Homo sapiens: one gene and its partners. The protein of the gene in region 2 purifies or fractionates together with the protein of the main gene of each other region. This does not show direct contact. Each region holds a gene or a part of one and is shown on either strand. Other genes may lie near its edges. The genes, in order: SEZ6L2, DAGLA and SLC35A5.

The links.
Region 1: the proteins of DAGLA (region 2) and SEZ6L2 fractionate together in Homo sapiens (co-fractionation; one large-scale study listed by BioGRID). This does not show direct contact.
Region 3: the proteins of DAGLA (region 2) and SLC35A5 fractionate together in Homo sapiens (co-fractionation; one large-scale study listed by BioGRID). This does not show direct contact.

Annotation. Positions count from the first base shown.
Region 1 is NC_000016.10:29,870,598-29,873,194, forward strand, and holds the end of SEZ6L2 (seizure 6-like protein 2 isoform 5 precursor), read right to left. Parts: intron 2,147-2,597; coding exon 2,108-2,146; intron 1,930-2,107; coding exon 1,812-1,929; intron 1,687-1,811; coding exon 1,590-1,686; intron 1,132-1,589; coding exon 1,102-1,131; 3' UTR 562-1,101; downstream 1-561. UniProt on the Homo sapiens protein: May contribute to specialized endoplasmic reticulum functions in neurons.
Region 2 is NC_000011.10:61,732,294-61,735,944, reverse strand, and holds part of DAGLA (diacylglycerol lipase-alpha), read right to left. Parts: intron 1,097-3,651; coding exon 943-1,096; intron 385-942; coding exon 301-384; intron 207-300; coding exon 129-206; intron 1-128. UniProt on the Homo sapiens protein: Serine hydrolase that hydrolyzes arachidonic acid-esterified diacylglycerols (DAGs) to produce the principal endocannabinoid, 2-arachidonoylglycerol (2-AG).
Region 3 is NC_000003.12:112,578,915-112,582,565, reverse strand, and holds part of SLC35A5 (UDP-sugar transporter protein SLC35A5), read right to left. Parts: intron 2,021-3,651; coding exon 1,240-2,020; intron 1-1,239. UniProt on the Homo sapiens protein: Probable UDP-sugar:UMP transmembrane antiporter involved in UDP-alpha-D-glucuronate/UDP-GlcA, UDP-GlcNAc/UDP-N-acetyl-alpha-D-glucosamine and UDP-N-acetyl-alpha-D-galactosamine/UDP-GalNAc transport from the cytosol to the lumen of the Golgi.

The DNA of each region.
Region 1 (2,597 bases), on a different chromosome or scaffold from region 2:
AGGCCAGGTGTTCGAGACCAGCCCGGGCAGCGTAACAAGATCTCATTTCTACAAAAAATTTAAAAATTAGGCAGGCACCATGGCTTGCACCTGTAGTCCCAGCTACTCAGGATGCTGAGGCGGGAGGATCCCTTGAACCTAGGAGTTTGAGGTTGCAGTGAGCTGTGATGGCACCACTGCATTCCAGCCTGGCCGGCAGAGCCAGGCCCTGTCTCTAAAAAGAAAGAAATTGAAAGCTGTTTGCCTCCTGCCCAGCAGCGAGAGAAGACGGGTGGCTCCTGTCAGTTCTCTCCCATCTGGAAGAGGCCCACAATGTCAAGGAAGGCCTGGTGGAGAGGTCACTGCGTCCTGGAGTGAGGCTGGTCGCAGGGAGGCCTTCACAGAGGCTGAGCCTAAAGCCAGGCTTTTTTACCTCAGGCCAGGCCCCCGGACACTGCCCTCTGCCCACTTTCGCATTTCCTTTTTTTTTTTTTTTTTCAAATTGTTCCCCTTTCCCCAGCCCTCTCTCCAGAGAAGTGGTCCAGTGCTCGGTGACCACCTCCCCACACTCCACCGGCCCAATTACAAGTGGCGATTTTCTGTTTATTGCTCAAAAACAAGAATTCAGAAGCAAAGGTGGAGAGACTGTGGGTTGGGGAGATGGCAGGAAGGGGGCAAGGCCTTGTCCCAGCTCTCCCCTTTGTCCTTCTTCTGACCCTCCTGGCCGGAGTCAGGCCTAGGGCCAGGGCATCTGGGAGGGGGGCACCTTCGTGGCCAAGGGAACAGTAGAGCTATCGGGGGCAGTCCTTGAGGGGTGCCCTGGGCAGGAGGGGCTGCAAGATTTGCAGGGAGGCAGAGTTCCCCTCCCAGAATCCAAAAGCCGGTAGGGCGGGGGGCAGGCCCCTCGTTTGGCAACTGAGAAGAGGCGGCTTTGGGCGGCAGGATGCTGGTTTATTTACTGTAGGATCTCCAGGGCCATCAAAGCCCCCTCGTGGGATAGGGAGACTATTTACACAGCCAGGGAGGAGGGCAGCCAGGAGGCAGAGACCGGGTCCCGTATTTCCCTCTGCCCGAATGAGGAGGGGAGGGGCGTCCTGGGTCCTGCAGCTGTAGTCTTGGGGTTCAGATGGAAACTTCATACTCCCGCGTATCCTGAAGACAGAGAGATCAGGTCAGTTGTTGGAGTCTGATAGGGGTGGAAGAGGCAGCCGAATGGGAGGAGGGGCAACGATCCTGGGTTTTAAAGTAACATTGACCTCTAGGGGCTGGGGGGCCAGTGAATGTGTTTGGTTCATCCTACGGTGTCGTAAAATGACACAAAAATCTGAATTTCTGGCTTGTCTTGAATAATTGGAAGATCTGCCAATTGTGCCTCAGTTTCGACTATGGGGTAGAGCCGTATTCTTGAGATGGGGCACAAGTCCTCCACTTAGCCACAGTCCTCACCACTCCCTATTGTATACACATGGCTTGCTATGCTCATTGACATGGCCTCTGGGGGCAGCTGAGTTTGAAATTCCCAAGACAGAGATTCCAGAGACCTTGCGAGAAGGTTATGGAGTCCTGGGAGAGCCAAGTGGTGGCTCTTCAGGGGCAGGCAAGGTGCTTACCCCAGCTTCATACAGCGGGTTGCTGAAGTCCGACTCCACGGTGATGGGGCTGTAGGAGTGGGAGCCCGAGAAGCCGAAAAGGGACTTTCCCTGAAGCCTGGGAAAGGGAGAGGACAGAGGAGCTTATCAACAGGTAAGCCCCTGAGCTCCCCTGACCCAGGCTCCAGTGCCAGGCTCGCAAGACGTCTGCCCTGGCCGGCAGTCCCCAAGCAGGCTACTTACTTGGTGTAGTAGATGTAAACGCCACTGCCGAGGACAATGACCAAGCCTAGAGGCAGCAGGATGGCCAGGGCCAGGTTCCCCCCTTCCAGCTGCCGTGATGGATCTGTGGTCTGGGTCACTACAGGAGGAGGAGAGGCCGGTGAGCTGTGGCTGGGCCCGGTCCTGGGCTCTCCCAGCCTCCTGCCCTGGGCCTCAAACCCTGGGCTTCATCCCTCCAAGGCCTGGCCTCCTGCCCCAGCCTCTGCCTTGCCCTCCCAACCTGGCCAGCCTGGGTCTCCACCTGTGCTCTCACTGACCTTCCAGTTTTCGGTTGTCCAGGAGCTCCTCATAGGCAACTGCAGGGAGAGGAGGGGGAGGGGATGGGGTCTGAGCCAGGGAGGGGAGGAGGCTGGGAGGGGCCGGGAGCCCGGTGGGGCTGGGCTGGACAGCCTGGTTCTCTCTGCCCTCTGCTCAACCTCAACTTTCTCCCTTTGTGGGGAAGAGAGAGGAGTGACCAGCACAGGGCCTTTGTCCTCTTTCTCCAGACCCCTAAAAAGTCAGGGTTCCTGGACAGTCTGAGCCAAACTAGAACTTGTCAGCGATAGGGAAACTGAGGCCTATTCAGAGCAAGGGACTTCCAAGCCAAGGCCCCCTCTACTACACCCCTGAGCCAATCCCATGACCTCACACGACCCAGGGCTTCTGGACACACCCGTGAGGACACGAGGCCACAGGAGGAGAACCGGGAGCTCTGTGGGGTCGCCCATTGGTCTCAAATGTGCTACCTGACTCTCCCAGCCCTGTCAC
Region 2 (3,651 bases):
ATGCCTCTCTGACCAATCTCTTCCAGTGAGCCCAGCGAGCAGGGAGGAACCCCCAACCATACACGCCTCTGCACACTGGCAGGGCAGGAAAGAAGCCCAGGGGCCCTGGGGTCCATGACGTGGGTTACCTTGTGGCCCAGCCAGGTGCCGTGGTGCCCCTCCACGGGGAGGCGCTCAGCATCACCCGTCAGGTCAGTCAGGGCATCCTTGGGGAGAGAGGAGACAGGTGAGGGGGCGGCTAAAGAGGACAGGAAGAGGGAGGCAGGCACCCCCGGGGGCTGGGAGCCATGGGCAGCGTACCTTGGGGGACAGGGTCCCCCGGATACTGATCACCACTTTCTTCTTGTCATGGTCCACCGCCACGTAGAAGGGCGTTTCATAGACCTAGGAGGCGGGCAGCTCGTGAGCCTGAGCGGCCCTGGTGGGGCCACACTCAGGGAAAGTGACCTAGGCAGGTCTCCTTCCTGGCCAGGAACTCTGGCTCCACCAGCCACGGAGCCTCTGCCGCCAGAAAGGCTGACGGGCTCCCAGGGTCACTGGGGATCTCCTCCCGATCCCAGCCACAGGCCTGCCCTGCCCTCCCCGCTCCTTGCTGGCTCTGGCAGCCCTGAGTGCCACCACTTGCCCCTGAGTCCAGGTGATGGCTGCCCCTCCCTGCTTCTGCCCTCAATTCCTTTCCCTAAAGGGCTAGGGCTCGGCAACCCAAACACTGGGTGTGGGGTTGATGTCTGCTTTCCCAGCCCCAGAGGTGGTACAGGCAAGCCAGGGTCTGGGGAAGAGAAGGGGGCCACCTCTGGTCTGCCCAGCTAGGGATGCCTGGAAGCTGCAGCCAGCCAGCACCAGCCAAGCAAGGGCTCCTGCCGGCCTGGAAGGATAGCCTCAGCACCCTAGGCCCTCAGCTGCCTGCTCCTGACACCAGGCCCCAGCCCTGCCCGGCCTCACCGCATCATGGCAGGAGGTATAGACGATGTCCACCGCAGTCATGTTCTCGTCCAGGAAGTGGCGCCGGATGGCAATGGCATTACAGCCACAGCAGTTGTCTTCCTCGATGGTGACTCCAGGGGCGAACCGCGGCCTCGCAGGACACAGGCAACACCTAGGGTGGGGTGACAAGAGAGTTCAGGGCCAGGGAGTCCCCGAGGGAACAAATGTCTCCTGCCACTGTCCCTGGAACCAGTTCCAGTTGGGCATTCAGCCCCACTGCCTCTACCAAATTGCCCTTGCTAAGTCCTAGTGACCCCCACGTCACCAAATCCACTGGCCACTCTTAGCCTTCCTCTTAACTGAGCTCTTGGCGGCACCTGACCCTGTGGGCCCTTCCCTCTCCCCACCTGGCTGGGGCCCCCTCCTCTCTGGGATCTCCCCTCCGGGCAGGGCCTACTCAGCGATGCACCCAACACTGAAGCCCTGGGGTCCCTCTGGGGGCACTGGCTCCTCCATGCACTCATGCAGTCTTGTGTTTTAGACACCATCTGCATGCTCAGGAATCCACCCCAGGCCTGCCCCAACACCCAGATGCTTCCATCCAATGGCCTAGCCAGCACCTCTCTCGGACACCTGACACCCTGCCAGCTCTCAAACCCCTTCCCTGCTTGTGTACCCCAACCCTCCTGAGGTCTTCCCAAGGCCCCTCGGTGGCTTGGCCTCTGGCTTGCAACTGTCTGTGGCTCCTCAGCCCTCACCCCCACGGCCATGCCACTCGGTCAGTACACGTACTCGGCTTCCCTTCAGACTCAGAGCTGGACTCCAGGCACTCCCTCACCTCCCCTACCCCTGCCCTGGCAGCTCTGCCTGGGACTGTCATGGTGGCCTCGACTGGCCTCCTTGCACTTGCCCCTACGCTCTCAGCTCAGCAACAGAGTGGCCCTTTTAAGATAAGTTGAGCCACATCATTTTCTTTTTAAGACCCTACAGCAACGCCCTGTCTACCCCACCTGGCTCTGGTCTCTCTGACCTGCTGCCAGCGTGTTCAGCAGCACCTGAGACAGCGTGGCCTGGCCCTTGCTCCTCTGGGCCTCTGTTCAAACGTCCTGTCACAGTGAGGTCTCTCTTGCCACCTCATCTAACAGCCAGGGCTCCCCAGGCCCCCAGCACTCCCCATCCCAGGCACCTGGCTTTATGTGGGTCCAAAGTGCCCATCCGCTCCACCATGTGCCCTATTTGCCTTGTCTATGCGCTGTCCGCCTCCTCGCTGGGCAGTGAGCACCACAGAGAGGTCCACAGCTGTATCCCCAGCACCCAAACAGGGCCAGGTACACAGTAGCCTCCCCACAGAAATGAATGAGGCAGCCTGGGAGCTGGGCACCCAGCTAGGTGCAGCGGCACCTCAGGCCACCAGAGGGAGCCAGCATCCAACTGCTAAGGCACCAGACGCTGGAGCCCACGTGACTGGGCCTGCCAGCTGTCACGGGATGACAGCTGAGATTTTATTAAGAAGCTTGGATTCTGGTGATGCTAGGAGGTTTGTCTTCACTCAGAGCATCACCTGAGTGACTATTACACACTTTCCAATGGGGAGAGACTTTGCTGAGAAAGCCACAGTGCTTGCTGGGGGGACAAAGCCGATGTACAATGGGAGAGCATGGTCCCCCACACTGCAGGTCAAGTGGTGATGGGCCAGGGTCTAGGGGCTGAGCTCCTGTGCTCGGCAGCTGTTCCCTCTCCAACCTCAGCTGAGCATGAGGCTGTAACAGTGTGGCCTTTGGAGACTGGAGGCTTGAGTTTGAACCCTTGCTGTATCACTTCCTGACCGCAAGGGCCTGGAGGTCACTCAGCCATTCTAAGCCTCAGTTTCCTCTTCTGTAAGAGCAGGTGGTGACAGCTACTTCACAAGGCTGGTGTGAGATCAAGGGTCCAAGATGCAGAAATGGTCTGGCCTATAATAGGTTCTTAATAACGAGTGGCTCCTCGCTTCTCCGGTGACAGGGCTGCCTCTGAGTCAGTGATGTGTGGGCCAGGAGGACCAGTCAGGGGAGCAGGGCCAGCACCCCGGATGGGAGGGCCCTGGGGCTCATCCAGGGCAGGGCTAGGGCCAAGCCAGAAGCAGGCCTGGCTCGCTGTGCTCTGCATGGGCTGAGAACTGCTGCCAGGGGAGAGGCCTGGGCCCGAGGCAGATGGGCAGCCCTTCTCCCTCTGGCCAGGCTGTTATGGACAGGCTGGGGCACTGGACTCTGGCCTCCTCCCAACACCCTGGGCTGCAGGCCTGCCTCTCTCTGCCCCACAGGCACCTGGTTCTTCCAGGCAGGGGCCTGGCTGGGCCCTCATGAGGTCTAGGGACTCTGCTCTCTCTGCAACACTAAGGCACCTAATACAAATGCCAGCACCCCTCCTGTCTGCAGAGCACCAGAGAGCCCTGCCTGCCAGTGATACCCTGGGTTCTGAAACACCCTATGGGCAGGCAGGACAGATACCACCTGTTACAGTTTAGGAAACAAAGGCTCTAAGAGCTGTCCCCACACCACCAGTGAGTAATGGAGCCTGGTGCTCATTTTGAAGAGTTCTCTGCCACAGCTGGGACTCCCAGGGATGCAGGCAAGAATGCCAGGCACATGCAGCTGACAAAGATGGGAAGGGGGCATGAGGTGCTCTAGTCCTCTCTGATCAGTCGCTGGAGGGATGGTGAGAATAAGGCCCCGAGAGCCACCCAGCTTT
Region 3 (3,651 bases), on a different chromosome or scaffold from region 2:
GATATAATCTGGTCAAATTAAATAAATACTTATGTTCTTGGAAAGTTAACTATAGAAGTATGAGAGGATAAAAAAGTGAAGTGTACTCAGTACTCAAAATTTCAAAGCTAACATGAGCAAAGTGAGGAGCACCACCTGCTGGTCTTGCAGAAAAATGATTAAAGGTTACAGAAATAGGTCTTCATAGGCCTTGTTACCTATATAGATTTTCTTTTGCTTAAAAATTAGAGCAAATGGCATTATCGGCTGTTGGAAAAGAATACAAGACTTCTGGATATACACTCTGGCTAAGAGCAGGGTATCCGAAACTCAAGATCCTAATTTTTTCATCTTTAGAATCTGTTGAATCATGACAGAGGCATTACACCCAGGGAAGCTCTGCTATGAATGTTATTAAGCAATAGATTATTTTTCCCAAAGAGTGAAATGTTCACTGTATAAAATATTTCATATTTTGTGTGCTCAAGAAAATTGTAAATCTAAAGCTAGATGTCTATTTCACTTATTTAAACGTATATTTAACTCCTTAATTGAATCTTCAAAGAGATCATTAACTTGCCAATAAAATGATTGACAGAGCCTTCCAAAACAATTGCAAGCAACTGGGAGATATTCGGAATAATTGCATAAGCATTTTTCTAGAAAATATTTTCCTCCTACTCGCCTTGCAAGGATCCTCTTGAAAACTACCTTTCTAGTGAAATAAACAAACCCTGCCCTTCTGGCATACTGGCTTATGAATAACCACAGGGAGGACTGAGGAGCCAGGCTTTCTATTCAACAGGACTTACTAATACGAAAGGCCAACTTCTCTCACAAATGAGCTTATTTTCCCTAACTATGGTGGAAAAGAAAGAGAAAGGGACTTGGAGTCAGACATAGGTGTACCAGTTCTTTCATTTATTATCTGTAAACCATTTTGCCTGTTTCTTGTAAAACTATGCAGACAGGACAAGACAACCTGTGAGGTATCTTCCAGGTGTATAATTCTATAGTATTCTATGAAGTAACACATAAGGTCCTTGAGATTGACTTATACTTTTTCTCTACACCTGACAGCATTGATTATGAGCCCTTGCAAACATCAGGAGTAAAAGGAATGTTTGTTGATTCGGTTTTAAAAGTCAGAGATCCAATACATTCTTTGACAAATCAGTACTGATTTTATTTTTTTCCTTGAATTAACTATGCTTTAAATTTGGGAAGAACAAGCAAAAAGGAACACCCTCACAAACTTACCCCACTGGAACGCTCCCAAAGATTGCCACTTAGATCTCGGATCCTTTCTTGCCTAGGTGCGTATTCCGGAACTTGAGGCTTGCTGGCATTATAAATAAATATAGAGAGAAGGACTGATGGGGCTTCCAAGAAAAATTCCAGGGAGGGCCTGAAGTCAAAGACCAGGACAGACACTGTTGTGATAATGACAGTGGTAACCTGGGCCATCAAGACATGGAACATGTTATCCAGGAACTTCAGAATGAAAGCCACTGAAAGGCCCTGGAATGCAGTTACAAAAATAAGGGCTACTGAAAATGCACTGTGGCCATAAAAAAATCCACAGTTCTTAATCTGATCACGGTTACTCCTCTGAAGGCCCAGAGTCAGCCCATTAAACAGAATGCCAAAGAAATAGAGTTTGCTGTTCTGTATGAAGATGCTTTCAGTGAGCTGGTTCCCTTCCTTCAGTATCTTTTCATTATAGATATTAGCCATTGAAGAAATAAAACACTGGACTATAATAAGAACATGGCCCATGCCAAGACGGATGTGACTGAAAACTCTGGCTGTGGTGTTCCATTTAGCTTCAGGAAAAGTCCATTCCTTTGCTGTACAATTGTCTTTTCTGGGACACTCACTTCTGAAAAGAAGGCAGGAATTGGAAGGGCTGAAAAAGGCATCGTGATGAAATCCACGTCCTGCCAAGTTGTGCTGTAAAGTTTTAGTCCCGGCAGTCAAGGCCACAATAGACAAAAATAAAGTCAGGAGGGAAGCCCACTGGATCCAGTTTAGACGCCTCCTGTTCAAAGATGAAAAAAAAGATTTTACTACTGTTTTCCCCCCATATCAATAGTTTCTACTGAAAACTCAGACACTTGAGTATTTGGTTGAATAAACTGGACCCAGTTTTTGCTAGCATTTCCTACCACTCAAGTTCAGAGAAAAACTGTTGGTGCCTGTCTCTCAAATTTAATGTTTTAATTCATTTTTATAACACCTATCCCCTAAGGCTGCTCAAGTCATTTCCCTTCTGTGTAGGTTTCCTTTTAACCTACAAGTTTAACATGGCCTCCTTTCTACCTCTAGAGGTATCCTGGACCTCTGGCACAGTAACTTTTATTGTACTATAAAGTTACAGCAGAGATTCTCAACCTGGTTTCCCAGAACCAGAAAGAATGTAGATGAGCTTCAGAAATGTTGTGTACAGATGAATTTCCCCCTATGCAGGAGATCCTGCAAAGCTTTGTCAAATCTTTAAAGGTGTCCATAACCCAAAAAAGATTTAAAGGAGAAGGTTAGCTCTAGATCCATGTCCTAATCGTAGAGCATTAAACAGCAAACTGCTGGCTGACAAGCCAAAGAAAAATGTTATTTTGGGCAGTATTTCAGTTTACAAAGTCCTAACAATCCTTTGTTTATTTTCCTTAGCAACAAACTTGTGAGAAATAAAGGACATGTACTATTATTATTCCATTTTGCTGATTCATTCTATTCAACAGATGTTTAATAAGCAGCTACTACGTGCCAGGCAACCTGGGGCGATAAAGATGACTTATCTCCATGTTCAAGGAATTTATGCTTTAACAGTGAGAAAACAATGAAACTAAATGATTTCAGTATGTGTGAAAAGTGATTAATGGGACAAGTGGAGTAAACTGAGGAACACTACAATCTGTAAATAGTCAGGTATTGCTTCAAAGAGGAAATGACACTTGAGCTAGAAGATGAAAAATTAATTGAAGTTTATCATGTGAAAAAGGAGGTGGTGATATATCCAGGCAGAGGGAAGAGTCTCTATGCAAAGGCAACAAGAATGTACAATGTTGACAAAGAGGAATATCTCACTTTCATTGGCGTTGTCAGGAGGCCTCTTGGGGGAACAAAATCTTGATGTTTGAAGATCAGTTAGTTAGGCAAAGAAGGGGAACACCGAGAAAAAAAGAGGAACATAAAAAATGCAGAAGTGTAAAGCAATAGGTGGGAACCAGAAGTGAGAATTTTTATATCATTGGAGCATTTATTGAGCACCTACCATACACTTAGGCATTTCCGCTCTAAGGGAGGAAACAGTTAACCTAACAGATTTCCCTAAGGTCATGTACTTAAACACTAAAGAAGGGATCGGATCCATGGTTTTGTATGTCTTCCTTCTGCATCATCACACCTCCTAAGTATAATTCTAAGTTTCCAGGATGCACATATAGGAAGTTGTGTGCATATAAAGCTTCATGCTCTGAAACTGCTAAATGCACAGACTAGCCTAGATAGCAGCATACCTGTGCACACTATTATATGCTTTCTCATATGTATGTAATTTTCAAATAGCCTGATCTAGAACTTACTGATGGCGTTAGCGCAGCCTTATGCCATCAGGTGAGAAACTGTGAACTAACCACTTAAATTTCTGAAGGTGCAGCTGATACACATTAA